Linked DNA regions of Homo sapiens: all the other regions are linked to region 2. The links come from fine-mapping of genetic effects on gene expression. A gene starts in region 2. Each other region holds a variant in brackets. All regions are shown on one strand. Distances are from middle to middle. Region 1 overlaps ARID3A (AT-rich interaction domain 3A). Region 2 holds the start of WDR18 (WD repeat domain 18). Region 3 overlaps ABCA7 (ATP binding cassette subfamily A member 7).

Region 1 (9,794 bases), 27 kb after region 2:
CCCTCCCGATTTAGGAGCCTTGGATGCCTCCAGCCACGGGGTGCTCACCACCGCCCCGACATACCTGGAGCCAGTAGGGCCCCTCCTACAGCCCTGTTTCTGTGACCTCCCTCCAGCGGGGTGGGGGCAGAGGGCTCACCTCGCTTCTGCATGAAGCTGAACAAGTCATCCAGGAATTCCTTCCTCTTGGGGTCCCCGTCGAGTTCGTAGAGCTGTGAGGGTGGAGAGGGGATGGGTTAGTTGGTGCCAGAGCTCAGGTGTGGGAACCATGTCCCTCCTGCACTGGAGGCCAGGTCAGGAGGACAGGAGCAGGGGTCACCACCCCTAGGACCCTCAAGCCGCTGCCAGAGCCGAAGACCCCGCTGGGCAGGTGAAGAACCACAAGGCTGCAAGACAGAAATGCCGGTGAACGAGCTTCCCAGAGGGTCTGCAAGGAGGCACCAGAAACCAGGTGGCCTGGGACAAGACAGTGTCCTCTCCCGGTCCAGGGGCCCGGGAACCCCAGATCAAGGTGCGTCCTGGCTTGTGGCCGCAGCGCTCCAGTCTCTGCCTCCGTCTCCACAAGACCGTCTCCCCGTCTCTCTCTCCTCTTCTCAGGACACCAGCCTGCTGGTTTTAGGGCCACCTCATCTCAAATCGATCCTTAACTCCCTTACAGCCACACGTTGCAGCTTAAAGCAACAGAAATCTATTCTCCCGCGGTCCCGGAGCCCAGAAGTCCAAAACCAACTTCTCTTCAGGGTGGCGGCTCACACCTGTAATCCCAGCACCTTGGGAGGCGGGTGAATCGCTTGAGCCCGGGAATTCAAGACCAGCCTGGGCAACATAGTGAGACCCCATCTCTACATTATGATAACAAAAAGTTACCCAGGTGGGGTGGCTCATGCCTACAGTCCCGGCTACTCGGGAGGCTGAGGTGGGAGGATTGCTTGAGCCTGGGCAGTGGAGGCTGAAGTGAGCCGAGACCGCACCACTGCACTCCAGCCTGGGCGACAGAACGCAACCCTGTCTCTAAAAACAAAACAAAACAAAAGATGTCTGCAGGGTTGCGTTCCCTCCGAAGTCTCCAAGGGAGGAACCTTCCTGCCTCTCACGGCTTCTGGGGGCTCCAGGTTCCTGGGCTTGTGGCCGCGTCGCTCCAGCCTCTGCCTCTGTCTTCGTGCAGGATGCGTCCTGATAAATGTCTGTTGGTGATTTCGTCAGTGTGAACATCAAACAGTGAGTCACACACACCTCACGGGTGGAGCCTCCCACACACCCAGGCACAGGCACAGCCCAGCCAGCGCTCCTGGGCTACAAATCTGTGGCTGTCCTGGGTCCCGTAGGCAGTGGCAACGTGAGCATGAGTGTCTGTGCGTCTAACACAGCTGAACACAGAAAAGGTGCACAAGAAATATGGAATTTTTTTTTTTTTGAGACGGAGTCTCGCTGTCCCCAGGCTGGAGTGCAGGGGTGCAATCTCGGCTCACCGCAACCTCCGCCTCCCGGGTTCACTCCATTCTCCTGCCTCAGCCTCCCGAGTAGCTGGGACTACAGGCGCCCGCCACCACGCCCGGATAATTTTTTGTATTTTTAGTAGAGACGGGGCTTCACCGTGTTAGCCAGGATGGTCTCGATCTCCTGACCTCGTGATCCGCCCGCCTCGGCCTCCCAAAGTGCTGGGATTACAGGCGTGAGCCACTAGAAATATGGAATTCTAATCCTGTGGGACCACCGTCCCATCTGCGGTCTGAGGTTGACCAAAGTGTCAACACGTGATTGTATGTCAGTAAGTTCCCCCGTTTCCAAATGAGGTCCTGTCACAGGTACTGGGAATCCAGTGCTTGAACCTGTCCTCTTCTTTTCTTTTTCTTTCTTCTTTTTTTTTTTTTTTTTTGAGATGGAGTCTCGCTCTGTCGCCCAGGCTGGAGTGCAGTGGCGCGATCTTGGCCCACTGCAAGCTCCACCTCCCGGGTTCACGCCATTCTCCTGCCTCAGCCTCTTGGAGTAGCTGGGACTACAGGCGCCCGCCACCACGCCCGGCTAATTTTTTTGTATTTTTAGTAGAGACGGAGTTTCACCATTTGGCCAGGATGGTCTCCTGACCTCGTGATCCGACTGCCTCAGTCTCCTAAAGTGCTGGGATTATGGGCATGAGCCACTGCGCCCAGCCTATTTTTTTTTTTAATTTTAATTTTTATTATTATTATTTTTAGATGGAGTCTCGCTCTGTCGCCCAGGCTGGAGTGCAATGGCGCAATCTCAGCTCGCTGCAACCTCTGTCTCCGGGGCTCAAGCAATTCTCCCCCCTCAGCCTCCTGAGTAGCTGGGATTACAGGCACCTGCCACTATGCCCAGCTAATTTTTGTATTTTTTGGGTAGAGACAGGGTTTCACTATTTGGCGAGGCTGGTCTTGAACTCCTGACCTCAAGTGATCCGCCTGCCACAGCCTCCCAAAGTCTTTTTTTTGTTTGTTTTTGGAGACAGGGTCTCACTCTGTTGCCCAGCCTGGAGTGCAGTGGCGCAATCATAGCTCACTGCAGCCTCAACCTCCTGGGCTCAAGGGATTCTCCTGCCTCAGCTGCCCAAGTGGCTGGGACCACAGGCACTCGCCATCACACCC[G/T]GCTAAGTTTTTACATTTTCTTTTGTAGAGATGGGTCTTTCTATGTTGCCCTGGCTGGTCTCGACCTCCTGGGCTCCCTCGATCCTCACGTGTTGCCTTCTCAAAGTGCTGGGGTCACAGGCGGGAGCCACCGCCCTCCACCTTTTCTTTGGGGGACACAATTTACCCTAGGACAGTGCCTGCCTGAGTTCACACAGCAAATCGCTGCAAAAATTCACCAGCATGCCTCCCGGGGCTGTCCTGAGGGTCGGACGGGAGCGCATTTGTTCCGAGAACTGGCTCTGCTTTGCAGGTGAGGAAACTGAGACACAGCGGCGAGTGCGGGACCAGAGCCTGGGGGCTGCTGGGGACTTGGCCCAGAGCCCCGCCCTGCTTCCCATCCCGGTCCTCCTGTCTCCTGCTGGCTTCCCCGCACCTGGAGCCTGGAGTCTCAGCCTCCAGCTATGAAATGAGCCACCGACCGCCTCTGCCTGCCAGGGTGGTGGCTGGGGAGGAAGAAGATCACCAGGCCCCGGAACGTCTTCCAGAGGGGAAAGAGGCTCCGTCTGGGGTACAAGGAGCCAGGAGGTCCCCCAGCGCCCCCCCCCACCCACAGGTTCGGGCGGGCAGGGTGGGGGAAAGCCGGCAGGGATAATTAGAAAGCGGAGTTCAGGCGGGGGCCAATTTGCCGAGGAGGAGCTGCGACAAATACCAGGCTGCCAATTAAGCTCGGGGGAATGTGGCTGGCTGGGCAGTGGGGAGCCTTGAAACCACCAATTAGGCCTCAGCTGGGATGATCGGTCATTAGGGCCCAGAAGGAGACCCACGCCCAGCCCCTGCTGCTGCGGGGACATCCCAGGTGCTGGGGAGGCCGGCCAAAGGCCCCATCACCCTGCAGCCGTCCTGCCCCTCTCTGGGCCTCAGTTTCCCCGTCTGTGTATTGGAGGCCCAGTGAGGCCTTCCGGGAAGGGGCTGGGGGGGCAGCCAGGAGTCCTGACCTCTGCCCTGGGTGGTCGAGGCTGCCCGAGGTCCAGCTGCCTGGTCTTTGTCTCCGCCCCAACCCGGCCAGCGCCAGACTGGCCAGCCTGCATTCCTGCGCTGATTTATGGTGGCCGGGGAGGCCCTTTCCCCTTCAGCTGCCTGAGGGGTGTGGGGCCCTCAGGTAGACCCGGCTGGCCGGGCCGGTGGGTCCCATGAGCACAGGCACGCACACATGGCCACACGCCCGGCCTCGTCCTCTGACCCCGGCCCGGCTGCCGCCCCCTCCCCTCCACGTTCTTCCTCCGAGACCCCGTCCATCACCGAGTCACGGATCTAGGAGTGTATCTGGGGTTTAGTCTGTTTTGTTCCCAGAGTCTGGAATCAGCCGAGCACACAGCAGTTGCCTAATAAATGCTCGTTACTTGAACCTTGATTTTCTCAGCTGCAAAAGTGAGCCGGGCAGGGCGGAGAGGGGGACAGGGCGGAGAGGGGGACAGGACGAGCTTGCCAGGGAAACGCCTGAGGCAGCAGGTACTGGAATGGGGAGGACTTCACCGCTGGGGCTGTCCTGGGGTGAACGCCATCCCCCACCCAAATTCACATCGGCCCAGAACCTCAGAACGAGACGTTATTTGGAAAAAGGGCCTTTGCAGACGTGATCAAATTGAGAAAAAGTCACAGTGAAGGCCGGTGGGCACTGGAGACGGTCGCACAGAGACAGAGGCCGGCCACATGTCAAGGGACTCCTGGAGCCCCCAGGAGCTGGGAGAGGCGGAAGGCTCCTCCTGCAGCCCCTGGAGGGAGCGCAGCCCTGCGGACGCCTCGATTTTGGACTCTGGGCTCCAGGACGGAGGGAGAACAGGTTTCGTTTGTTTTACGCCCGCGGTTTGAGGTCCTTCGTTACGCAGCCCCCCGGCTAAGAACCGCACGTAGAGGCCAGCACACCTTGGGCCCTTCCAGGGCGAGCGGAAGGTCCTCTCCTCTGAGATTCTGACCCGGTATTACGGGGTCTACCCTGCCTGGACCCCCCCTTCCCTGGCACAGCCCCTACAAGAAACCTCACCGCACCTCCTGCCTCAGTTTCCCCATCTCTCAAATAGAGTGTGTGAGAAAACACAGCAGCTTTACCCCAAGCACCTGGCGCCCCAGCTACCCTCACATCCCGGATGGGGAAACCGAGGCGCCAGGCAGCAATCAGCTGCCCCATGTACAGCCAGCCAAGGTTGGGGTTGGAGAGGGGAGCCATTAACTCCCAGGCCAAATGGTGGGCGAACTGGGCCGGTGGCGAGGCACGGTCAGACCCCTGTGGGGCCGGGGCACTGATGCGTGGCAGTAAAGGGAGGACCTGCGGGGGCCCCAGCTGCTGGCGGGGGAGGCGGCTCTAATGGCCGTTGCTGTGGGCAGCCAGCAACAAAGCCAGCAGTAAAGGCCGCCTGGGCTTTATGGGTCTCTGGCCCCCGGTTCCGCTCCCCTGTGGGGGGCGCCCCGCCCTGGCCAGCTGGCCGAGGCCCCAGGGATGGGAAAGCAGGGGACGGTGTCCAGGCTGCCCATGGCGGTGTCCAGGCCCCCCTTGTGGGCCAGATCCCGGGTTGAACTGCTGGGCCACAGCACACCCCATGGCAAACCCAGGCCTTGGTTCTCACCTGGGTTCTGTGGCCGAAACCCTGCCCCTCTGAAACGTCAACCAGAAAGCTCTGAAATCAGCCGCCCACCACACACCCACAGGAGCCCTAAACCCAGGCTGGAGATTGGGCAAAATCTCCGGAAACTCCCTCCCCAGGGGCTGAGGGCCGAGATAAGCGGCCCGCACTCCCCTCCACGCCGCCTGACCTCCCTGGGGCCTGCTCTGATCACGGGAGGGGTCGGGTGTGAAGTTCTGAAGGTGCCCCTCCGCTGAGACCCCCACCGCCCCCCATCAGCCCCGAGCGGCCGCCTTCGCCCCGGCTGTTCCTCCCGTCTGCGAGGCCTTCTCAGCCCCTTCCCTTCGTCTGGGTCCCCTGTGGTCATTCCCTCCCTGGAGGGGAGCCCCCCGTCCTCCCAGGACCGATATCACCTCCGCAGATGCTCTGCTCCCACCCACCTTTACCGACCACCGGCCTCACGGGGTTTCTGGCTCACGGCCCCCCTTGGACCCCCAGCCCTCGCATGGCCCCAGCTGTGTGGATTCACGCATTTGTCTCTCGTCTGTCTGCCCTGGAACATGCGGAATTCTTATCTTGTTGCCAGCATCCAAAATCGGGCACACAGCAGTTGCCTAATAAATGCATGTTAAATGAACTTGCTTTCTCAGTGCGATGCCAAGAAAATGCGGGGCCACAGGGCAGGCCTGGGGGTCTTTCCCTGAGGGGGTCCCCTCCCCTCTGTCCACTTCCTGCTGTGGGGGATGGAAGGTGTGGACCCCTAATTACCAAGGCTGGGCCCATCGTCTCCCCTTCCCAGCACCACCTGCTTCGGAGAAGGGGAAACCGAGGCACAGAGCGCGTGGAGCCAAGCCACCTCCAGGTCCCCCGGCCGCCCCTCCTGCCAGACCCTTCCCCACTCAGCAGTTGGGTGGGGTGGGGGGTTTTTCACAGACATCTGAGCATGACCCTCCCTCGGCCACAGCCTCCCAGGGCCCCCCAGCACCCTCCTGGCCCCTCCCTGCCCTCTCCTGCTCCCTCCGCCCCGGCCTTGAGCTGCCCTATTTAGGGACAGGGTCTCGCTCTGTCACTCAGGCTGGAGTGCAGTGGTGAGACCCTAGCTCACTGCAGCCTCCACCTCCCACCTCGGTCTCCTGAGCCAATGAGACCACAGGCAGGCACCACCACGCTCGGCTAATTTTTGTATTTCTATAGAGACAAGGTCTTGCTATATTGCTCAGGCTGGTCTCAAACTCCTGGCCTTAAGTGATCCTCCTGCCTCAGCCTCCCACAGCGCTGGGATTACAGGCAGGAGCCCCCAGACCCAGCCTTGGCGTCTTTCTATGTAAAACGCACAGGCCCCCACCCCAGGGCCTCCGCGGCGCTGTTCCTTCTGCCTGGAATGCAGCTCCCGGGTCCCCGCTCGGCTCCTGCCTTCCCGCCCAAACGTCGCCTTCTGACAGAGCCCCCTCCACAGCCCCCCTCAGCCTCTGACCCCTTCATTCCTCTTTGGTTTTCTTCCCAGAAGGTTGCACGCCCGAGCCCCGTTACACGGATCTGCAAGACACACTCCGTGGCTCTGGGGATGGAGGGAAGACGCTGTGGCCCCCGACCCTGACACTCCCCCGGCTCTGCACGGGGGGGGGTGTGGGAGGCCTGGGGGGGTGGGAGGTGCCGCCCCCACCTGATGAGGACCGGGCCCCTCTGGAGGGGGCACCTGTGAGGAGAGAGGGTGGCGGGGCTCGGGTGGTGGCGCCGGTGGGGGAGGGGAGGAAAAAGTGAGATAACCGCCACCCCCCAGCCCTGGAAGGGCAAACAGGAAATTCTTGTTTGTGGCGAAACGTTGATGATTTTCTCCACCCCACCTCCCAGAGAAACGACAGCTCCGAGGGGGTCAGTGGAGTCTGCTGGCGGACAGGGTGCAAGATAAGTCCCAGGGCCACCTGGGAGTGGGGAGGGGGTTCCCCGGCTGCCCGGACCACCCCTAGAACCAGGGAGTTCAGCCCCGGCTCAGGACTCCCCTCCCCAGCCCACCGGCTCTGGGAGGTGGGAGGAAGGTCAGAAAAAGACCCCAGAGGTTTGCAGAAAATCCAAGGAAAGGGTTGGCCAGGACAGAAGAGGGTGGCCGGGGCCAGCACATGCGGCCCCTCCCCCAGCAGTGCCCAAGGTCACAGGTGGGCAGTGCCCAAGGTCACAGGGGGGCTATGGTTTCCCCACTCAGTCCCCAGGCAGGCCCCACCTGGGCACTCCCACCAGGTCCCAGCAGCTGCGGGGGGCCCAGGGCGGTGTCCTTGGGCCCAGAGGCCCAGGCTGTAAAGAAACCGCCTGTCTGCAGGGCCCCCTGGGAGAACCTTTGCCCCCCAGGCCCCCTCCAGTCTCCCAGGAGGCTCCAAAGTCCATGAGGCCCCACCTGGGGATGAGGCCACGGCAGGGGTGGGAGGGGTGCAGGAGCTGGGAGGCACCTGGTCAGCTGCAGCCCTTCAGACGCTCTCTTTGGCCACAGAATTCAGGGAAATCCAAGAAAGAATCCAAGTGTCTAGCGTTTGGGGACTGCCGAGCCCTGAGCCTCCAGGAGGGTTGGCCTGACTGAGCCTCCAGGAGGGTTGGCCCGAGACTTGGCAGAGAGATGTCAGAAGAAGAGAAATTTTCTTTCCTTTTTTTTTTTTTTTTTTTTTTTTTTGAGACAGGGTCTCGCTCTGTGGCCCAGGCTGGAGTGCACTGGCACGATCACAGCTCACTGCAGCCTCAGCCTCTCAGGCTCAAGTGATCCTCCTGCCTCAGCCTCTGGAGTAGTTGGGACCCCAGGCACACACCACCATGCCCAGTTTTAACTTTTTTTTGTAGAGATGGGGTCTTGCTATGTTGCCCAGGCTGGGTACAAACTCCTGGGCTCAAGTGATCCTCCCTCCTCGGCCTCCCAGAGTGCTGGGATTCTGGGCATGAACCACCACGCCCAGCCTGAGACACTTTGTTTTTGTTTTGAGACCGAGTCTCGCTCTGTCGCTCAGGCTGGAGTACAGTGGTGTGACCTCAGCTCACTGCAACCTCCGCCTCCCGGGTTCAAACGATTCTCCTGCCCCAGCCTCCCAAGTAGGTGGGATTACCGGCACGTGCCACCACACCTGGCTAATTTTTTTTTTAAATTTTTTGCAGAGACGGGGTTTCACCATGTTGGCCAAGCTGGTCTTGAACTCCTGACCTCAGGCCATCCTCCCGCCTCTGCCTCTCGAAGTGCTGGGATTCTGGGTATGAGCCACTGTGCCCAGCCTGAGAAATGTTCTAAAAGGCACGTTTTTGCACTGTCCAATATGGCTTCTGGGAAACTGAAGAAGTATGTTTTCCTCTAAGGCCAGATATAGGTCTGCGGATGCTCAGAAGCAGCAGCAATAGATCTGAGTCAGCAGCCGCCCCCTCCGGGCAGCAGCCTGAGCCTCCCAGGCGCCCACGCACCCAGCGGGGCTGAAGGGTCAGAGGGAAAAAGAGAATTCATCCAACAGCCAGGCCCACCCAGACCAGCCGGGGAACTCTGAGGTTTGGTTCTTTAGTCTACGTTGTTTTTTTTCCTTTTTTTGAGACAGGGTCTTACTCTGTCGCCCAGGCTGGAGTGCAGTGATGCAGTCATAGCTCACTGCAGCCTCCTGGGCTCAAGTGATCCTCCCACCTCAGCCTCCCGATTAGGTGGGACCACAGGCACCTGCCACCACTCCTGGCTAATTTTTGTATTTTTAGTAGAGATGGGGTTTCACACCATGTTGGCCAGGCTGGTCTTGAACTCCTGACCTTGTGATCCGCCCGCCTCGGCCTCCCAAAGTGCTGGGATTACAGGCATGAGCCACCGCGCCTGGCCTTAAAAGATCTTATAAAAGGCTGGGTGTGGTGGCTCACGCCTGTAATCCCAGCACGTTGGGAGGCCAAGGCAGAAGGATCACTTGAGCCCAGGAGTTTGAGATCAGCCTCAGCAACACAGCGAGACCCCGTCTCTTCTTTAAGAAAGAATCCTGGCCGGGCATAGTGGCTCACGCCTGTAATCCCAGCACTTAGGGAGGCTGAGGCGGGCGGATCACCTGAGGTCAGGAGTTTGAGACCAGCCTGACCAACATGGAGAAACCCCATCTCTATCAAAAATACAAAATAGGCCAGGCGTGGTGGTGCATGCCCGTAACCCCAGCTACTCAAGAGGCTGAGGCAGGAGAATAGTTTGAACCCGGGAGGCAGAGGTTGTGGTGAGCTGAGATCGTGCCATTGCACTCCAGCCTGGGAAACAAGAGTGAAACTCCACCTCAAAAAAAAAACAAAATAAAGAACTAATTCACTGTGACTCCTACAACCAAAGTTAAACTGAAAGAGCTGCTTTTTATCTCCCAAATCCCCATGAAGCAGCCAGGATGGTAAATGAGATGCCCTCTCCTTCCAGCAGCCTCCAAGGTCGGAGGGACCAAGGGGCTTGGAAGTCAAGACCAAGATCAAACCAGGTCTCTCCCCTGCTCCACGGTCAACCGTGGCTCCCTACTGCTCCCAGAAGAAAGCCCAACTCCCTGCCTGCCTGCCGGTCCCCACGCGCGCCTCCACATGGCTACAGCCATCTGTACACACCTGGCTGCTCCCCCTGAAC
Region 2 (9,128 bases):
GGCCGAGGCGGGTGGATCACCTGAGGTCAGGAGTTGGAGACCAGCCTGACCAACATTGTGAAGCCCTTCTCTACTAAATACAAACAAATTAGCCAGGTGTGGTGGTGGGCGCCTGGAATCCCAGCTACTCAGGAGACTGAGACAGGAGGATTGCTTGAACCTGGGAGGCAGAGGTTGCATTGACTACCGGCATGAGCCACTGCGCCCGGCCGCCCTTTATAACTTTCAAGTCACAAGTGCCAGGCGCTGCCGCCTGCGTGGAAGAGATGCCCGCTAGCCCTGGAAGATGCTGCGGTGTGTGAGTGCCGGGGACTGGGCTGCACCGGGCTCTATCCAAGCACTCAAGGCAGGATTAGGGCTGGTCTGGGATTCGCAAGTCTCGAGGGGACCTGGAGAAAGGAGGCAGCAGGGTGAAGCTTAGGCTATAACCCCTGAGCAGTCACCCATCCCAGGGCCCCAGGCCGCATGGTTGTTCCCTGGTGCCCTGCAGGCAAAGCTCAGATGGGCTGAGATGTCCTGTGGGAAACGCTCACGCTTTGCTCCTCTTACCTCCCACAGGTGGATGCTTTCTGCAACTCCTGCCAGGACGTAGAGACCATTGGGTGATGCAGTCAGACAGGTGACAGGCCCGGGGCACATGATCTTCTGCTGGAGCTGGTCCTAAGGATGCACAGTCAGCCTCGTGAGCCCCATGCAGGACACGGGAGCTACTACAGCAGTGGAGGGCGAGGGGAGGGGACGCCTGGGCAATGGCTAAGTCAGAGAACCAGGAAGAGGAGTCGGGAGCAGGGTGGTTTGAGCAAATGCATGGTCCAGCAAGGAAGTGTTCGCCCCTGCAAGAGGCTTCGAGGCTGGAGGTGGTAGATGTGAGGTTGGTGCTTCCTCTGAGGGTCAGAGGGGCCCTGGGTGGGAGGAGTACAGGAACAGAACAAAGAGGATCCAGAAGGACACTGGGGCCCAAGAGCCCAGTAGGCTTGTGCCCCAATCCTTCTATCCATAATGTCCAACCTAAGACCCCAAGCCTCAGCTTCCTCCTCTCTAAAATGGGAAAACTCAGCCGGGCGTGGTGGCTCACGGCTGTAATCCCAGCACTTTGGGAGGCTGAGGTGGGCAGATCACTTGAGGTCAGGAGTTCGAGACCAGCCTGGCCAACATGGTGAAACCCTGCCTCTACAAAAAATACAAATGTGGGCCGGGTGTGGTGGTTGGTGCGGGCCTGTAGTTGCAGCTACTCAGGAGGCTGAGGCCCGAGAATCGCTTGAACCCTAGAGGCAGAGGCTGCAGTGAGCCGAGATCGCACCACTGCACTCCAGCCTCAGCGACAGAGTGAGACCCTGTCTCAAAACTAAAATAAAATGGGAGAAATTTATGAGTTGTGTGTAGACTCCATCAGGCAATGCTGGAGCACAGAGCCAGTCCCAAGAGATCTCAGCGGGCACACGGGGGAAGCGAGTAGCTTCAGGGACTGGCTGCATTTGGGCTTGGGAGTAGAGGGGAAACTGTGGGCGACGGTGAGTATCTGTTGCTTTATTGGAGGAATAAACATGAGTTTCCTGCGCCACCCCTTCATGGGAGACTCCCCCAGACCTTGGTCCTTCTCCCTTTTCCTCCAGAACCACAACATCCACAGAGCTCATAGGCCCCTTTTAATCAAATTTCGCGCTCCAAGAACTCGTGCATGCGCAATTGCCCCAAGGGACCCCCCGGAGCGTCTCCCATTTTCCCCCACTGCCCCCATAGCAGCTCAGGCCTGAGCCCCGCGCGTGCGCAGAGCGGCCTAACAGGTCGCACGTATCTCCCCAAAGCCCCCAGACCCGCGCATGCGCAGAGCGCCCGAACGGAGACCACCTCCCCTCCCCACGCCAATTCCGACTAAGGGTGCACGCGGCCCCCACCAACCCATCCCCCGACTTCAGCCTCGGGCGCCCCATGACCCCAGCAGCGAGACCGCACCGCCGCACCTTCCGCTGGAGCTCCCAGGCGCTGATGTAATTCTTGCCCAGCTGCGCCGCCAGCAGATACTCGCCATTGAGCAGCGCCAGGCCGCGGGGTCCCGCCTGGCCGCCGCGGTAGGTGAGCAGGTTGGCGCCCGAGTGAAGTTCCCACACGATGCAGCTCCACATCGGGGCCGCCGAGTCCGTACACACGGCCACCTCCATGGGCGCCGCCATCTTGCCTTCCCCACCGCCCCGGACGTGCGTCATCATGAGCGAGACGCGGACGACTGCCCCACGCGGGCCAGAGCGGCGGCCCCGCGGCCCCAGCGGGTGGCCGACCCGCGCATGCGCCCGTGCCTCGGAGAGAGGGGCTTTCTTGTGAAGTGGGATTTCCCGCTTACCTGAGACTCGAGGGTCGCGCGGCCTGCTTAGAGATCTGGGGAGGCGACTTCTTCCAAGGCCCAGGGTCTCCGGCGATCAGTTAGTAGCTCTAGAGCCGGGGTACCTGACTTGGCCTTTTCCTCCTGGGCATTTTTGGCCAAGTGACTCAAGCTCTTGGATTCATTTATTTTTAAATGTTCAAATAATAAAGTTCCGACGTCACAGGCCTAAATGACACATTGCGCCTAAAAGAGAGAGCGCACACCCAGCAACATGGCTAGTTGGCGATGAATACATTGGAATTCACTGCTTCCTTATTTATTTAGTTTTGTAGAGCCAGGGTCTCACTGTCCTGCCCAGGCTGGCCTCGAACTCCTGAGCTCAAGTGATCCTCCCAGCTCGGCCTGCCAAAGTGCTGGGATTACAGGCGTGAGCCACCGCGCCCGGCCCAGTGTTTCCTTATTGGTCGACATCTGCCTCCCCCTTGACCCCTCTTTAGGGGCCTCAACATCTAAATTATTAGTCGGATAGCTTGGTGTAGGTCAAACAAGTCGCCAGTTCTGTCCGAGCCAAGCAGGGTCTAACTTCATGTCACGGCTGCCCGTCACGGACCATGTCTGAAAACGGCATTCAAAAAAAAAAAAAGGCCGGGCGCTTTGGCTCAGGCCTGTAATCCCAGCACTTTGGGAGGCCGAGGTGGGTGGATTACCTGAGATCAGGAGTTCGAGACTACCCTGGCCAACATGGCGAAACCCCGTCTTTACAAAAAGTACAAAAAGCCGGGCGTGGTGGGAGGCTGAGGCAGGAGAATCGCTTGAACCCGGGAGGCGGAGGTCTCAGTGAGCCGAGATCCCAGGCACTCCAGCCTGGGCGAATGAGACTCTGTCTCAAAGAAAAACATATATCTATTATTTATTTATACTAAATATATATCTAGTAGAGATGGGGGGTCTCACTGTGTTGCTCAGGCTGGTCTCCAACACCTGGGCTTAGGCCTTGGCCTCTTAAACCGCTGGGATTACAGGCTTCAGCCACAACGTCCGGCCTAAAAACAGTATGATTTAAAATGTGCAATTAGTTGCCAACCCCTTAAAAAGGGATAAAAAGGGAGCATTCATTTAAAAGTCGGGATTTCCGCCCGGGGGTTGCAGCTGACCTGGGTCGTGTGCCCTCGAGCAGCAAGAGGCAGGGGCTGGAGGCTGCATGCGGGGTGCGGTCCCCGGAGGCGGTGCGACTCCTGGTCCGCGGCTCCCGGCGGAGGGCACGGCCGGGGCAGGAGGCTGGTGCCAGAGCGTGCGGCGCCGCAGCCCCGCTGGCCGCCAGGTGGCAGGCGCGAGCCACCGACCCCGAGCCCAGGCCAGAGGGAGGGCGGCCCCGGGGACCCGCCTGGTCGGCAGGAGGGGCCGTTTGAGCGGGGAGCCAGCGACCCCCAGAGAACCGTGTGCGGGGCAGGCCCGTGCGAAGGCCCTGGGGCAGGACCACGGAGCGGGGCCGGGCCGTGCAGGGCCGTGTGAACGAGGCCTGGATTTCATTTTATCCTGGGAGGGAGGGAGGGAGTCCAATCCAAGGACCTGCTGTGCCTCCAGAGTTTCCTCCAACCTCATTTTTATTTTCTTTCTTTATTTTGCGACAGTCTTGCTCTGTGGCCCAGGTTGGAGTGCAATGGTGCGATCTCGGCTCACTGCTACCTCTGCCTCCCGGGTTCAAGCGATTCTCCTGTCTCAGCCTCCCGAGTAGCTGGGATTACAGGTGTGAGCCGCCACGCCCAGCTAAGTTTTGTATTTTTAGTAGAGACGGAGTTTCACCACGTTGGCCAGGCTGGTCTCGAACTCCTGACCTCAGGTGATCTGCCCGTCTCGGCCTCTCAAAGTGCTGGGATTACAGGCGTCAGCTACTGAGGCCGGCCTCCAACATTATTTAAAAAACATTATTTAAAAAAATCGGCGGGGCGTGGTGGCTCCGGCCTGTAATCCCAGCACTTTGGGAGACCGAGGTGGGTGGATCACGAGATCAAGATCATCCTGGATAACAAGGTGAAACCCGTCTCTACTAAAAATACAAAAATTAGCTGGGCACAGTGGTGCATGCCTGTAATCCCAGCTACTCGGGAGGCTGAGGCAGGAGAATCGTGCAATCATGGCTCACTGTAGTCTCCAATTCCTGGGCTCAAGCCATCCTCCCACCTCAGCTTCCCGAGTAGCTGGAACCATAGGAACCACACTCAACTAATTTTGTGCTTTTTTTTTTTCTTTTTTTGCAGCGACAGGGTCTTGCTTTATTGCCCAGCTGGTCTTAAACTCCCGGGCTCAAATGATGCTCCCACCTTGGCCTCCCGAAGGGTTGGGATTACAGACATGAGCCACTGTGCCTGGCCTTGTTTTAATTTTTACTTTATTTATTTTTGTTTTTTGTAGACAAGCAGGAGAGGTGGATCTCACTCTGTTGCCCAGGCTGGAGTGCAGTGGCGTGATCTCAGCTCACTTCGACCTCCGCCTCCTGGCTTCAAGTGGTTTTCCTGCCTCAGCCTCCTGAATAGCTGGCATTGCAGGTGTTCACCACCACGCCCGGCTAATTTTTGTAGTTTTAGTAGAGACGGGGTTTCACCATGTTGGCCAGGCTGGTCTCGAACACCTGACCTCAGGTGATCCACCTGCCTCAGCCTCCCAAAGTGCTGGGATTACAGGCGTGAGGCACCGCACCTGGCCTTTTTTTTCATTTTTCTTTTTCTTTTTTTCTTTTGAAATTGAGTCTTGCTCTTGTTGCCCAGGCTGGAGTGCAATGGCACAATCAGCTCACTGCAACCTCCGCCTTCTGGTTTCCAGCGATTCTCCTGCCTCACCCTCCGGAGTAGCTGGGACTACAGGCATGTGCCACCATGCCCGGCTAATTTATTTTGTATTTTTAGTAGAGACGGGGTTTCACCATGTTGGCCAGGCTGGTCTCAAACTCCTGACCTCGTGATTTGCCCGCCTCAGCCTCCCAAAGTGCTGGGATTACAGGCGTGAGCCACTGCGCCTGGTTCATTTTTAGTTTTTCTTAACAGAGTCTGGCCCTGTCGCCCAGGCTGGAGTGCAGTGGTACCGTCATAGCTCACTGCAGCCTCAACCTCCAGGGCTCAAGCGATCCTCCCACCTTAGCCTCCCGGGACCACAGGTGCACACCACCACACCTGACTAGCGTTTTAATTTTTCATAGATAGGGGCTCTCGCCGTGTTGCCCAGGCTGGTCTTGAACTCCTGGGTTGAAACCATCCTCCTTCCTCGACCTCCCAGGGTGCTGGGATTACAGGCATGAGCCACCGCCTGGCCCAGCCTGGAAGTTTTTAAATTCCCGGGTTCCAGGACACCCAGCAGACCGGGCAGGTGTGGGCTGCTGCCACAGGCAGGAGAGGGCAGGGGCAGCAGGAAGTCGATGGACTACAGTCTCCACCTTCTCACAGGCCTCCTGCTGCGGCCCAGCCCGAGCCAGGCCTTCCTCCCCTCCTCCCCTCCCTGGGGACGTGGCCAGGCCAGGCTGCAGTGTGAGGTCAGAGGTCACCCCGCCCCCAGCCTGGTTCCTGGAATGAGGACAGACTAATCGTGTTGGAGCAGGGGACAGAAGCCACACTTTGGGGGCATCTCCAGACCACCCAGCGGCCGGATCTCGTTGGTGCCAGCTGGAGGTTGTGAAGGGGGGGTAACCAGGAAGGGGAAACTGAGGCACAGAGGCAGGAACGTTCCCCTCGGGGTGTAAGGCCCTCATTCTCCATCCCCTGCACATTTATGGAGCACCGCCAGTTTGCAGGCACTGATGAACCCAGCCAGACCCCAGTCGGCTTGGCTGCCCCGGTCCTGGCCCCACAGACCCAGCAGCTGCGGCCGTCCCGCGGCAGCCCCATCATTACCTATGCCAGTGGGGAGAGCAGCAGCCGGCTCTGGTAGCCCTCTGCTTTTGGAAGCGTCTCAGCCGCCGCCTCTCCAGTCTGGACTCTTGGCTGGCTCCGAAAATCGGCTATCAGAGGAGGGTTTGAGCTTCACCTCCGGGAGCCTCCCGCCCTCCTAGCAAGCACCTAGCAGGCGGCCCAGGGAGGTGGCTGGGCTCTGAGAGGCTAGGGGGTGGCTGGGCCCTTCCTGGGCTGGGGAGGAGGTGAGGGGCTGAGTCCATCCCTGGCTGGGGAGGGAGGTGGGGGCCTGGGGAGGAGGTGGGGGGCTGAGTCCCTCCTTGGCTGGGGAGGGAGGTGGGGGCCTGGGGAGGAGGTGGGGGGCTGAGTCCCTCCTTGGCTGGGGAGGGAGGTGGGGGCCTGGGGAGGAGGTGGGGGGCTGAGTCCCTCCTTGGCTGGGGAGGGAGGTGGGGGCCTGGGGAGGAGGTGGGGGGCTGAGTCCCTCCCTGGCTGGGGAGAGGTGGGGGCCTGGGGAGGAGGTGGGGGGCTGAGTCCCTCCCTGGCTGGGGAGAGCTGGGGGCTGAGTCCCTCCCTCCCAGGCTGGGGAACTCAGAGGTGCACCCCCTCCCTGACTCCCCGCCTCTGAGGCCCTCAGCTGCGGGTGAACAAGCAGGGCCTGACGATCCAGTTTGGGGTGGGGGCTTTCCCAGGGTTCTTCCCTCCTCTCCCTGGGGCCGGCGGGCTCCTCCAGGCAGTGAGTGGGACTCCATCTCCGGGACGCAGGGTTTGGCAGACTCATTTCTGGCTGGAATGGAAAATGCCATTTTCCCTTCCGGGGCCAGGGTCTAACGTGGGTTTCAGGAACCAACCGGCTGGGACAGGTGTGGGGGTGTTGTTGGTCCCTCGCCTCCAACACAGCCCTGGGGAGGGACGTGTCCCGGCCAGCCTCGGCCAGGATGGTGCGCGGGAGGCCGGGCAGCTGAGTCTGGGCCTGTCCACCTCCAGCCACGCTGACCCTCCTCCAGTCACGTCCCCTGGGCGTGGGCAATGGGAGGGTGGACAGTGGGTTAGGCGGCCCAGGAAACCCTTTCCTGGGAAAACGTTGCAATACCACTTTCTTTGGGTTTGTGGGCTAAGAACGAGAGGCCTTTTATTTTTTAATTTTTAATTAATTAATTAGTTAATGTTTTTAGAGACGGAGTCTCGCTCTATCACCCAGGCTGGAGTGCAGTGGCGTGATCTCGACTCACTGCAAGCTCCGCCTCTGGGTTCATGCCATTCCCCTGCCTCAGCCTCCCTGAGTAGCTGGGACTACAGGCGCCCGCCACTACGCCCAGCTAATTTCTTGTATTTTTAGTAGAGACGGGGTTTCACCATATTGGCCAGGCTGGTCTCGATCTCCTGACCTCGTGATCCACCCGCCTCGGCCTCCCAAAGGGCTGGGATTACAGGCATGAGCCACCACGCCCGGCCTAATTAATGTTTTTAGAGATGGAGTCTTGCTCTGTCACCCAGGCTGGAGTGCAGTGGGTTGATCTCAGCTCACTGCAACCTCTGCCTCCCAGATTCTAGCAATTCTCCTGCCTCAGCCTCCCAAGAAGCTGGGACTACAGGTGCACACCACCACGCCCAGCTAATTTTTTTTATTTTAGTAGAGACAGGGTTTTGCCATGTTGCCCAGACCGGTCTCGAACTCCCGAGCTCAGGCAATCCACCCACCTTGGCCTCCCAAAGTGCTAGGATTACAGGCGTAAGCCACCGTGCCCGGCCTTTTATTATTATTTTTAAGAGACAGGGTCCCGGCTGGCCCTGTGTGGCCAAGGTGGGTGTTATCATTTGAGGTCAGGAGTTCGAGACCAGCCTGGCCAACATGGTGAAAACCCAACCCGTTGCTACTAAAAGCACAAAAATTAGCCAGGCGTGGTGCCGCGTGCCTGTAATCCCAGCTACCTGGGAGGTTGAGTTGGGAGAATCGCTTGAACCCAGGAGGCAGAGGTTGTAATGAGCCAAGATTGTGCCATTGCACTCCAGCCTGGTTGACACAGTGAGACCCTGATTCAAAAAAAAAAAAAAAAGGGGCCAGGCACAGTGGCTCATGCCTGTAATCCCAGCACTTTAGGAGGCCAAGGCAGGCAAATCACGAGGTCAGGATATCGAGGCCATCCTGGCCAACATGGTGGAACCCCATCTCTACTAAAAATACAAAAATTAGCCGGGTGTGGTGGCGGGCGCCTATACTCCCAGCTACTCGGGAGGCTGAGGCAGGAGAATTGCTTGAACCTGGGAGGCAGAGGTTGGAGTGAGCCGAGAATGCACCACTGCACCCCAGCCTGGGAGAAAGAGCGAGACTTCGTCTCAAAAAAAAAAAAGAGAGAGAGAGAGACAGGGTCTTGCTGTTGCCCAGGCTGGAGTACAATGGCATGATCACTGTTCACCGCAGCCACCATGCCCGGCTTTTTTTTTTTTTTTTAATTTCTGGTAGAAATGGGGTCTCCCTATGTTGCCCAGGCTGGTCTCAAACTCCTGGGCTCTATCCATCCTCCCGCTCCAGCCTCCGAGTGTTGGGATTACGGGTGTGAACCTCTGACCCCAGCTGAGTCCCTTTACTATGTTCTGGGTTTGGGGGCTGCAAACTGGCTGTCCAGGGGCCAAATCTGGCCCTTGGTCTTGTTTCCTAGGACCCGAATGGTGTTGTAAGGGAAAAGGTGAAAATGTGGCCAGCACTGGAAAAGTTCCCTCCCCCAGCCACCAGGACGCCCCTGAACCCCAGAGGCCTCAGCTCCAGGCGGCTTCACCAGTGGGCTGGTTCCTGGGCTCGCCTAGGAGGTGAAGGAGGGCAAACTTATGGGGGGCTCGGGAACAGGGTGTCCCGCTCGGCACAAGGGCCTCCATCTGGGCCGCACAGAGGGCGGAGGAGCGGGGAGCCCCGTGCCTCCCACCCGAGGGGCCGC
Region 3 (9,473 bases), 68 kb before region 2:
AGGGACCAGATGGGAAAACTGAGGCCAGAGAGGGGAAAGGTCCAGGCCAACAAGACGCCTCACCTGTGGGAGCTATGCTGCACTGGGGGCTCCTCCAGTCCTGCCTCCTGCAGCAGCGCCTCGAGCAGCCGGGCACGTCCAGGGTCCCCTGGGGCGTCCTCACTGTGTGTGAGGGGAGATGTAGGGTCAGGGCTGTACCCCCAGGTCCCTAGTCTTCCTGCCACCAGCCCCTTCCTTCTGCACCCACCTGAAGAAGGACACCTGAGCACCGTACATGGTGGGACTGAGCCGCAGAGCCGGGTAGTGCCCGAAAGGAGGCACGATGAGGCTGAACACGAGGGCCAGGCCCACAAAGAGGGCAGGCAGCACGATCTGGGGGACCAGCCCATCAGCTGCTGCTTCCATCCACCCTCCAGGCTTGCTTGCACCTGTCCCTGCTCCTGCTCTACAACCACCCATGGCTCCCCAGTGCCCTCAATAAATGTGCTTTGGGTTGGGAATACACACGGGGGTAAGGGTTTGGATTAGGCCACTGAGTGGACGGCCAGGGTAGGGAACTCAGGGACTCCCATGCGACTCCCTGGTGCTAGCCCTCCTCACCTGGGCGAACAGGCCGCGGCGGCTGCGGCGGGCAAGCAGAAAGCGCTTGAGAAGCAGGGCCTGGAGCTGCTGGCGGGTCAGTGCCCAGCCCTGTACCCGGCCCACGGCGTCTGGCCCAGAGCCCTGGTCAGTCTCTGGGGCTGACCCAGCTGTGAGGGATGAGAGGGTCAGTGCTCACGCTGCTGTGGGGGGGTGGCTGGGAGGACCCCAGGGCCACTGGGAAGGACTTACCTGGTTCCCCGTTCTCCAGCGCTGTCTCCTGTGGCGGCATCTTGAGCCGTAGGGTTACGTCTAGGCCAGCAATGCCTGTGCATAGGTGCTGCCCGCAGCTGCCATCTGCAGGGCCATCAGGGGTCAGGGTCAAAGTTGAGGGTCACGGATTGGGGGATCAGGAATCAGGTATAGGGTAAAGGCTATGCCTTGGGCCACACTAAGCCAGGGATGGGGACCTGGCCTCTGGTCCCACTCTGGACTGGGGTCAGGGGTCAGGGAGCTGTGGCCGCACCCTCCATATCTGTGTCCGCAGCACACTCCTCCACCACCTTCAGGAAGATCTGGGGAGACAAGCAGGGGCTCAGAGACTGGACACCGACAGGGAGAACTGGGGGCTTGTGAGCCCCCCACCCCTCCTACACCATGGGTCCCCCAGGCCTTCCCAAGGGACATCTGAGCCACCAGAGCTCCTCATGTGCCATGCCTCCTCCCTGAATGTCCTTGCTGCTCATAAACACGCTATTCATCCTTCAAAACACCACCTCCTCCAGGAAGCCCTCCTCCTGGCCCCACCTCACCACCACCCAGGCCTCACACCTCCTCGAGGCTGGTGTCGGAGATCCCGTAGCCAGTGAGCCTCAGCTCCGCCAGCCGCGTGTCTAGCTCTCGGAAGAGTGTGGCGAAGCTGCCGTCATGGGCACCCGTGTAGGGCAGCACCAGCACCAGCTCGTGTGGCAGCTCCTCCACCAGCCGTGCCCCGGGCACCCAGTGCTGTACCAGGGCCAGCAGCTGAGGAGTGCCTGTGTGGACAAAGGGGTGCTTCAGGGAGCCCCGGCTCACGCCCCACCCCAGTCTCCCTGGGGAAGAGGCATTGGTGACCTGTGAGGGGACTGTCCCGGCAGACAGAGATCAGGGTTAAGAACGTAGGCCAGGTGCGGCCGGGCGCAGTGGCTCACGCCTGTAATCCCAGCACTTTGAGGGTTGAAGCAGGCAGATCACCTGAGGTCAGGAGTTTGAGACCAGCCTGACCAACATGGTGAAACCCCATTTCTACCAAAAATGCAAAAATTAGCCAGGCATGGTGGAACCCACCTGTAATCCCAGTTACTCGAGAGGCTGAGGGAGGAGAAATGCTTGAACCCAGGAGGCAGAGGTTGCAGTGAGCTGAGATCACACCACTGCACTACAGCCTGGGCGACAGAGCAAGACTCAGAAACAAACAAAAAGAGATCTTGAGGGCAGTGCTGGACCTAGTGTTGGAGGTCAGGGGTAGGTTTGTCTCTGGGCTCAGCCCTGGTTGGGTTAAAGGTGGGGTCAGTGTTCAAGTTAGTCTCATGGTTCCGGCTCAGCCCAGGGATGGGGGCATCATCTCAGGTTCTCAAGTGCTCTCCTCCTCCTCTCCTTCTCCTCCCCCTCCTCTCCCTCCTCCTCCTCTCCCTCCTACTCCTCCCCCTTCTCCTCCCCCTCCTCTTCCTCCTACTTCTCCCCCTTCTCCTCCCCCTTTCCCTCCCCCTCCTCCTCCCCCTCCTATTCCTCCCCTTCTGCTCCCCTCCTACTCCTCCCCTTCTTCTCCCCCTCCTCCTCTCCCTTCCCCTCCTCCTCCCCCCTTCTCCTCCCCCTCCTCCTCTCCCTCCCCCTCCTCCTCTCCCTCCTACTCCTCCCCTTCGCCTCCCCTTCCACCTCTTACTCCTCCCCCTCCTCCTCCCCCTCCTCCTCCGCCTCAACCTCCTCTGCCGCTTCCTCCCCCTCCTCCTCCTCTTCCCCCTCCCCCTCCTCCTCCTCAAGTTAAGGCACAGCCACCCCACTGCCCACCCGCCTTGGGTCTCCCACCCCGGCCCTCACCGACTCTGCTGCCCTGGCTGCCATTCTTCTTTTCCTGCCTGGTGTCCACACTGCCCTCCATGTCAGTGTCAGCCTGCGGGCAGAGAGGCACCAAGTGGCTTGGCCTTCAGGGCTGAACAGAGTCCCGGGGGTCAGGGGTCAGGAGAAGGCCGGTCCCCACCTTCTCATTGGTGGTCAGGGGCAGGCGGGCCTTCACCAGCGTCAGGTAGTAGCCGGAGCCCAGGTGACGGCGCAGGAAGAGTGGGGAGCCACAGCAGCACAAGCGGCCACCTGCCACCACGGCCACACGGTCTCCCAGCAGCTCTGCCTCATCCAGGTGGTGGGTGGAGAGGATCAGCGTGCGACCTAGGCACGGGGGACCAACCCACAACTACCATCAGGCCGCCGCGTCTTTGCCCGAGCTGGGGCCTCTGCCAGGAGTTGTCTGCCCCATGAAGCAAACTCCTATTCATCCCTCAAAACCTCATCCCCAGAACCTCCTTGTTGGAAACCTTTTCTGGCCCTTCAGGCAGAATCCAGGGGAACCTCTGTCTATCCCCAACTCTTACTGTCTCGGTATTTGAGCAGTAGCCCCTAAATGCCATAGCAACAAGTGGGGTCCACATGTAGCAAACTCCTACTCATTCCTCAAAACCCCATCCCCAGCACTTCCTTGTCAGAAGCCTTTTCTGGCCCCTCGAGCAGAATCCCCAGCTCTTACCTTCTCGGTATTTGAGCAGCAGCTCCCAAATACCGCGGCGGGAAGCAGGATCCACGCCAGCCGTAGGCTCGTCCAGGATAACAACTTGGGAGCCGCCCACAAAGGCAATGGCCACGGACAGCTTCCGTTGCATCCCACCTGGTAGAGATGGGGAAGGGACCTCAGTGTGTCACACCCAGCCTTGGGCAAGGTTGCCTACCCACGTGGACCTCAGTACCCGGCTTCCCCCTGCCTTCAGGATGAATCCCCAGGCCCCTCCCTGTGAGGTGACCTCCCTTGGGGATGGGCTCACCAGAGAGGTGGCGAGTCTGCACACTCTGCTTGGAGACCAGCCCCACATCCTGCAGCAGACGGTCCTGCTCGGGGCCCACTACAGCGGCACTCAGACCCTTCAGCCGCCCATAGAACCAGACGTGCTCGTCCACGGTCAGCCTGCGGCCAGTGCACAGAGCAGAGTGACCCACATGGCAGGCAGAGTCCCAGAGGGCGTCCAGTCCCTTCCCACCGCTGCACTCTGGGCCTGCCGAGACGCACATGTCAAACAGCACGTTGTACTGAGGACAGACGCCCAGGTGGGGCCGGATGGCGGCCATGCTGGAGCGGACGTCGTGGCCCAGGATGAAGGCAGAGCCACCACTGGGTGGGAAGAGGCCACTCAAGATGGACCTGTGGATAGAGGGGTCTCAGAGTAGCCCCCTTCACAGAGTGCAC[T/C]GGCAGTTACAGAGCTTCTATTTTTAATTTCTGTTTTTAAAAAATTTTTAATTATTTATTATTATTATTATTATTATTATTATTATTATTATTTTTGAGACGGAGTTTCACTCTGTTGCCCAGGCTGGAGTGCAGCGGCACGATCTCGGCTCACTGCAAGCTCCACCTCCCGGGTTCACGCCATTCTCCTGCCTCAGCCTCCCGAGTAGCTGGGACTACAGGCGCCCGCCACCATGTCCGGCTAATTTTTTTGCATTTTTAGTAGAGACGGGGTTTCACTGTTTCACCATGTTAGCCAGGATGATCTCAATCTCCTGACCTCGTGATCCACCCGCCTCGGCCCCCCAAAGTGCTGGGATTGCAGGCCTGAGCCACCACGCCTGGCCACAGAGCACCTATTAAATGCTACATCCAAAACCCTGTGATAGCCTTATTTTTATTTATTTGTTTATTTTTATTTTTTTGTGACAGAGTCTCACTCTGTTGCCCAGGCTGGAGTGCAACGGCACAGTCTCGGCTCACTGCAACCTCCGCCTCCAGGGTTCAAGCAGTTCTCCTGCCTCAGCCTCCTGAGTAGCTGGGATTACAGGTGCACGCCACCATCACACCCGGCTAATTTTTGTATTTTTAGTAGAGATGGTTTTGCCATATTGGCCAGGCTGTGTCTCAAACTCTGACCTCAGGCAATCCTCCCACCTCGGCTTGCCCAAGTGCTGGGATTACAGGCGTGAGCCACCACTCCCGCCCTATTTATTTTGAGACAGGGTCTTACTCCGTTGCCCAAGCTGGAGTGCAGTGGCGCCATTACTGCTCACAGGGAGGGACTGGTCGGGGGCCTCACAGGGAGCTCACAGGGAGGAAGTGGTGGGGGGCTCACAGGGAGGGAGTGGTTTGGGCGGCTCACAGGGAGGGAGTGGTGGGGGACTCACAGGGAGGGAGTGGTGGGGGAACTCACAGGGAGGGAGTGGTGGGGGGGCTCACAGGGAGGGAGTGGTGGGGGGGCTCACGGGGAGGGAGCGGTCGGGGGGCTCACAGGGAGGGAGTGGTGGGGGGGCTCACGGGGAGGGAGTGGTGGGGGGTTCACGGGGAGGGAGTGGTGGGGGGGCTCACGGGGAGGGAGTGGTGGGGGGTTCACGGGGAGGGAGTGGTGGGGGGCCTCACGGGGAGGGAGTGGTGGGGGGGCTCACGGGGAGGGAGTGGTGGGGGGTTCACGGGGAGGGAGTGGTGGGGGGGCTCACGGGGAGGGAGTGGTGGGGGGTTCACGGGGAGGGAGTGGTGGGGGGCTCACGGGGAGGGAGTGGTGGGGGGGCTCACGGGGAGGGAGTGGTGGGGGGTTCACGGGGAGGGAGTGGTGGGGGGCTCACGGGGAGGGAGTGGTGGGGGGGCTCACGGGGTGGGAGTGGGGGGGCTCACGGGGAGGGAGTGGTTGGGGGCTCACAGGGTGGTGGTCTTGCCGGCCCCGTTGTGGCCCAGGAAGGCGGTGATGTGGCCCTGGTAGAAGTCCAGGCTGAGCCCCCGCAGGGCTGGCTGCGGGCTTCCAGGAAAGCGCTTCTCCAGGCTGCGAACGGAGACGCCAGGACTCAGGCCGGGCGGTGCCTCTTCTACCAGCACTGCAGAGATGGGGTGGACTCAGCCATGGAGGTCATGGGGGTCCTGGGGCCTGCAAGTCCCTCAGAGCTGGGCTGTGGAATCCGGGACCTGCTGGGCCGGGGCCTATAAAAGCTGCGGGAGCTTGGGGACCGCAGTGTCTTCAGGGCAGGTGTGAGGGTTGGGGTGTCCAGGTCATTGTCATTGGCATCTGTGGAATCTCGTTTTGGGGGGGAACTGGGCATATGTGGACAACCAGCTATTAAGCCTCGTAGTGCCTCACCCTTTGGGTCCAGCGGGGTGGGGCAAGGGGCTGGACTCTTGGGGGGCCGAGGTCCGCACCAGTAGCTCCTCCGAAAAGGAAAATTCCATGGTTCAGGGATCCCGTACTGGCCTGCGGGGAGGGGCGCGGGTTATTGCTTAGCCCACCCCCCAGGAGTGTACCAGGCTTTTTTTGGGGTTTTGTTTTTTTTTTTTTTTGAGACGGAGTCTTGCTCTGTTGCCCAGGCTGGAGTGCAGTGGCACGATTTTGACTCGCTGCAAGCTCCGCCTCCCCAGTTCACGTCATTCTCCTGCCTCAGCCTCCTGAGTAGCTGGGACTACAGGCGCCCGCCACCATGCCTGGATAATTTTTTGTATTTTTGGGAGAGACGGGGTTTCACCGTGTTAGCCAGGATGGTCTCCATCTCCTGACCTCGTGATCTGCCCACCTCGGCCTCCCAAAGTGCTGGGAAAGCAGGCGTGAGCCACCGTGCCCGGCCTTGTTTTTTTTTTTTTTGTTTTTTTTTTTTTGAGACTGAGTTTCACTCTTGTTGCCCAGGCTGGAGTGCAGTGGCGCGATCTCGACTCACCGCAACCTCCGCCTCCGGGATTCAAGCATTTCTCCTGCCTCTGCCTTCCAAGTAGCTAGGAAACAGGCACCCGCCACCACACCCAGCTAATTTTGTATTTTTAGTAGAGACGGGGTTTCTCCATGTTGGTCAGGCTGGTCTCGAAATCCCGACCTCAGATGACCCGCCCGCCTCGGCCTCCCAAAGTGCTGGGATTACAGGCGTGAGCCACCGCACCCAGCCAGCTTTTTTTTTTTTTTTTTTTTTAAAGAGATGGAGGTCTCACTCTGTTGCCCAGGCTGGTGGGATCACGGCTCACAGCAGCCTCAACCTCCTGGGCTCGAGTGATCCTCCCACCCCATCCTCCCGAGTAGCTGGGACTACAGGAGCGTGCCACCACGCCCAGCGTGCCACCACGCCCAGCTAACTTTTTGTATTGATGAGGTCTCACTATATTGCCCAGCCTGGTCTCAAACTCCTGGGCTCAAGCGATTCTCCTGCCTTGGCCTCCCAAAGTGCTGGGATTACAAGCGTGAGCCACAGCGCCCGGCGACTGTGCCAGCTTCTGGCCATACACCTGGAATCAGGGCGTCCAGGTATGAGGCGGCCCAGAAACCCCGCCCACCTGCCTCAGGCCCCGCCCCTCCAATGCAGCCACCTGCATGCGTGTGCCAAGAAGCCCCGCCTTCTCTCCAAGGGAATAAGCCACCCCCCACCCCCAAACGGCCTGGAGGCCACACCCCTAGCTCAGCCTCCCGCAAAGCAGGTGCGACCCGGCCCGGAGCCCCGCCCCCTACGGCCCACCTGGGCACACAGCTTCCAGGTACCAGGTGGCGAGGCCGTAGAGCGCCGCGTCCAGCAGCAGAAGGCCAGAGACCTGGGCCAGGCTGAAGACGTCTGCCGTAGGCCGGGTGCCCACGTTGTGCCACTGCGCGCCCTCGCCCTGCTCCTCCAGCAGAGCCAGGCTCTCGCAGCCGAAGCCGAAGGCCACGGGCGACAGCAGGCTCTGCGGAAAAGCGGGCGGTCAGTGAGCGGCCGAAGCGGGGGGCGTCCCCCATCCACGCCCGACCCGGCTCTCACCGCGGCCACGCGGCCACCCGCGGGCAGCCGGTCCCGCCAAGCCACACACAGCACGTAGGGCAGGTAGAGGGAGAAGTAGGCCAGGCCGCCGCAGGCCGCAGCCAGGTTGGCGCGGGAGAAGAAGGCGCTGAGCAGGAAGCTCTGGGTCACCGTGGCCACCGCGAAGGCTGCCAAGAACAGGAAGACCACGCCCGGGTGGCTGTAGGGGAGGATGTCTCCCAGCTGTGAGAGGCAACGGGAGCTTAGGGTGCAGCTCCTGGATTGGCCTGGGGGCGCGCACCCACGTGGGGCCGCCCCTGTCTGTCACCCTCCAGCGCACCCATTCTGCAGCCGGGCAGGCCGAGGCGCGCCCACCTTGAGCACCAGAACCAGCAGTGCGGCGCTGAGCAGGAAGGGCCCGAGGCAGCTGAGGAACCAGCCTAGCCAGAGCACCGCGCGGCTGAGCCCCATGGCGCGCATGGTGTCCCGCAGCCGCGTCTCCTTCTCCCGCACCACGGCCTTCACTGTCAGTGTCACGGAGTAGATCCAGGCCAGCGTCAGGAAGAGCGGCAGCGACCGGCTCAGCACACGCAGGAACCTGGGGTGGGGACGGCTGGGGTGGAGGCTGGAGACCCTCCGCAGACCCCCCCTCCGCCCACCATCTGGCACGACTGGTTCGTGTCCCGGGATCTCAAGGCGGGAAGATTTGCCTCCCTGTTCCTTGGAACCTGATCCAGCCAGCCTTTGGCTCTCAGGCATCAGTGCAGCCCAGGCTGTCCCTGCGCCGGGGGCCCCCAGACCCTCAGAGTCCCCCCCCCCACCAGACCCTCAGAGTCCCCTGCTCCTCCCGCTGCAGCAGGTCACGTGGAGTGGTGTAAAGGTGCAAAGTTCGCAGCCTGGACCGCAGGAAGGTTCCCAACAGAGCCTGGGCCCACCCCCACACCCGGGACCTTCCCGCCGCGGGGAAGAGCGGGGAGGGGTGCCAGAGCTCACACGTCGTCCACATAGCACGGATAGGGCATCTGCTGCAGGTAGAGGCCGGCCCGGGGGTTGGCGCCGCTGAGCACGCGGACGGCTGCACGCTCCACCAGGTCTTGCAGGTACACGAAGCCGCCCCACACGTAGCGCAGGTCGGTCAGGGGGTCCGCGGCTGGGCCAGGGTCCCAAAACCTGCGAGAGGGGCATGGTGGCCGGTTGTAGGGAAGGGCTAGAAACTCCCGGGGCCCCACCCTGAATAACCTTTTTCTTAGACAGGGTCTTGCTCTGTCGCCCAGGCTGGAGTGAAGAGCTGCAATCATAGCTCACTGCAGCCTTGACCTCCCGGGATCAAACGATCCCCCCAGCTCGGCCTCCCAAGTCGCCTGGCTAATTTTATTCATTTATTCATTTGTTTGAGACGGAGTCTCGCTCTATCGCCCAGGCTGGAGTGCAGTGGCGCCATCTCGGCTCACTGCAACCTCCGCCTCCTGGGTTCAAGCGATTCTCCTGCCTCAGCCTCCTGGGTAGCTGGGCCTACAGGCGCGTGCTACCACGCCCGGCTAATTTTTTGTACTTTTTTTTTTTAGTAGAGGCAGGGTTTCACCGAGTTAGTCAGGATGGTCTTGATCTCCTGACCTCGTGATCCGCCCGCCTCAGCCTCCCAAAGTGCTGGGATTACAGGCGTGAGCCACTGTGCCCGGCCTCACCTGGCTAATTTTTAAAGATATTTTCGTGAGGTTGGTGGGGGAGGGGGGCGGGGGGGAGGCGGTCTCACTATGTTGCCCAGGCTAGTCTCGAATACCTGTCCTCAAGAGATTCTCCCACTTTGGCCTCCCAAAGTTCTGAGATAACAGGCAAGATCTACTGCGCTCAGCACCCGGTGCAATTTTAGCTCCACCCTTATTCCAGGGACCTAATAATACACCTGGCTCCGCCCACCATTGCCCTCAACC

Evidence for each region. PIP is the estimated chance that this variant, and not a neighbour inherited with it, causes the effect.
Region 1: its variant is fine-mapped to the expression of WDR18 in nucleus accumbens (GTEx, PIP 0.95).
Region 3: its variant is fine-mapped to the expression of WDR18 in subcutaneous fat (TwinsUK, PIP 0.95).

What each region holds. Positions count from the first base shown.
Region 1 is chr19:950,510-960,303 of GRCh38, reverse strand. It overlaps ARID3A (AT-rich interaction domain 3A), which reads right to left. Exons shown (of 9, transcript NM_005224.3): 4 at 140-212. Among named protein-coding and RNA genes, the nearest start is that of WDR18, 29 kb to the left of the region's middle. RefSeq lists silencers at 2,458-2,650, 4,881-5,140, 6,346-6,554 and enhancers at 3,026-3,727, 4,430-5,131, 6,536-7,237, 7,238-7,939, 8,658-8,737. The variant G/T (reference allele first, on the strand shown) is at 2,604.
Region 2 is chr19:977,397-986,524 of GRCh38, reverse strand. WDR18 (WD repeat domain 18) reads right to left here and starts at 2,180. Exons shown (of 10, transcript NM_024100.4): 1 at 1,962-2,180; 2 at 550-660. The coding sequence starts at 2,171. RefSeq lists enhancers at 1,861-2,040, 2,071-2,220, 1,645-2,586, 5,775-5,919, 5,870-6,460, silencers at 2,271-2,360, 3,525-3,914 and a cis regulatory region at 5,841-5,854.
Region 3 is chr19:1,045,469-1,054,941 of GRCh38, reverse strand. It overlaps ABCA7 (ATP binding cassette subfamily A member 7), which reads right to left. Exons shown (of 47, transcript NM_019112.4): 13 at 8,536-8,712; 14 at 7,918-8,140; 15 at 7,564-7,785; 16 at 7,288-7,489; 17 at 5,937-6,047; 18 at 5,505-5,676; 19 at 3,890-4,021; 20 at 3,648-3,787; 21 at 3,356-3,493; 22 at 2,816-3,000; 23 at 2,656-2,728; 24 at 1,411-1,613; 25 at 1,106-1,154; 26 at 832-936; 3 more. Among named protein-coding and RNA genes, the nearest start is that of ABCA7, 10 kb to the right of the region's middle. RefSeq lists silencers at 3,205-3,405, 3,662-3,826, 9,427-9,473. The variant T/C (reference allele first, on the strand shown) is at 4,067.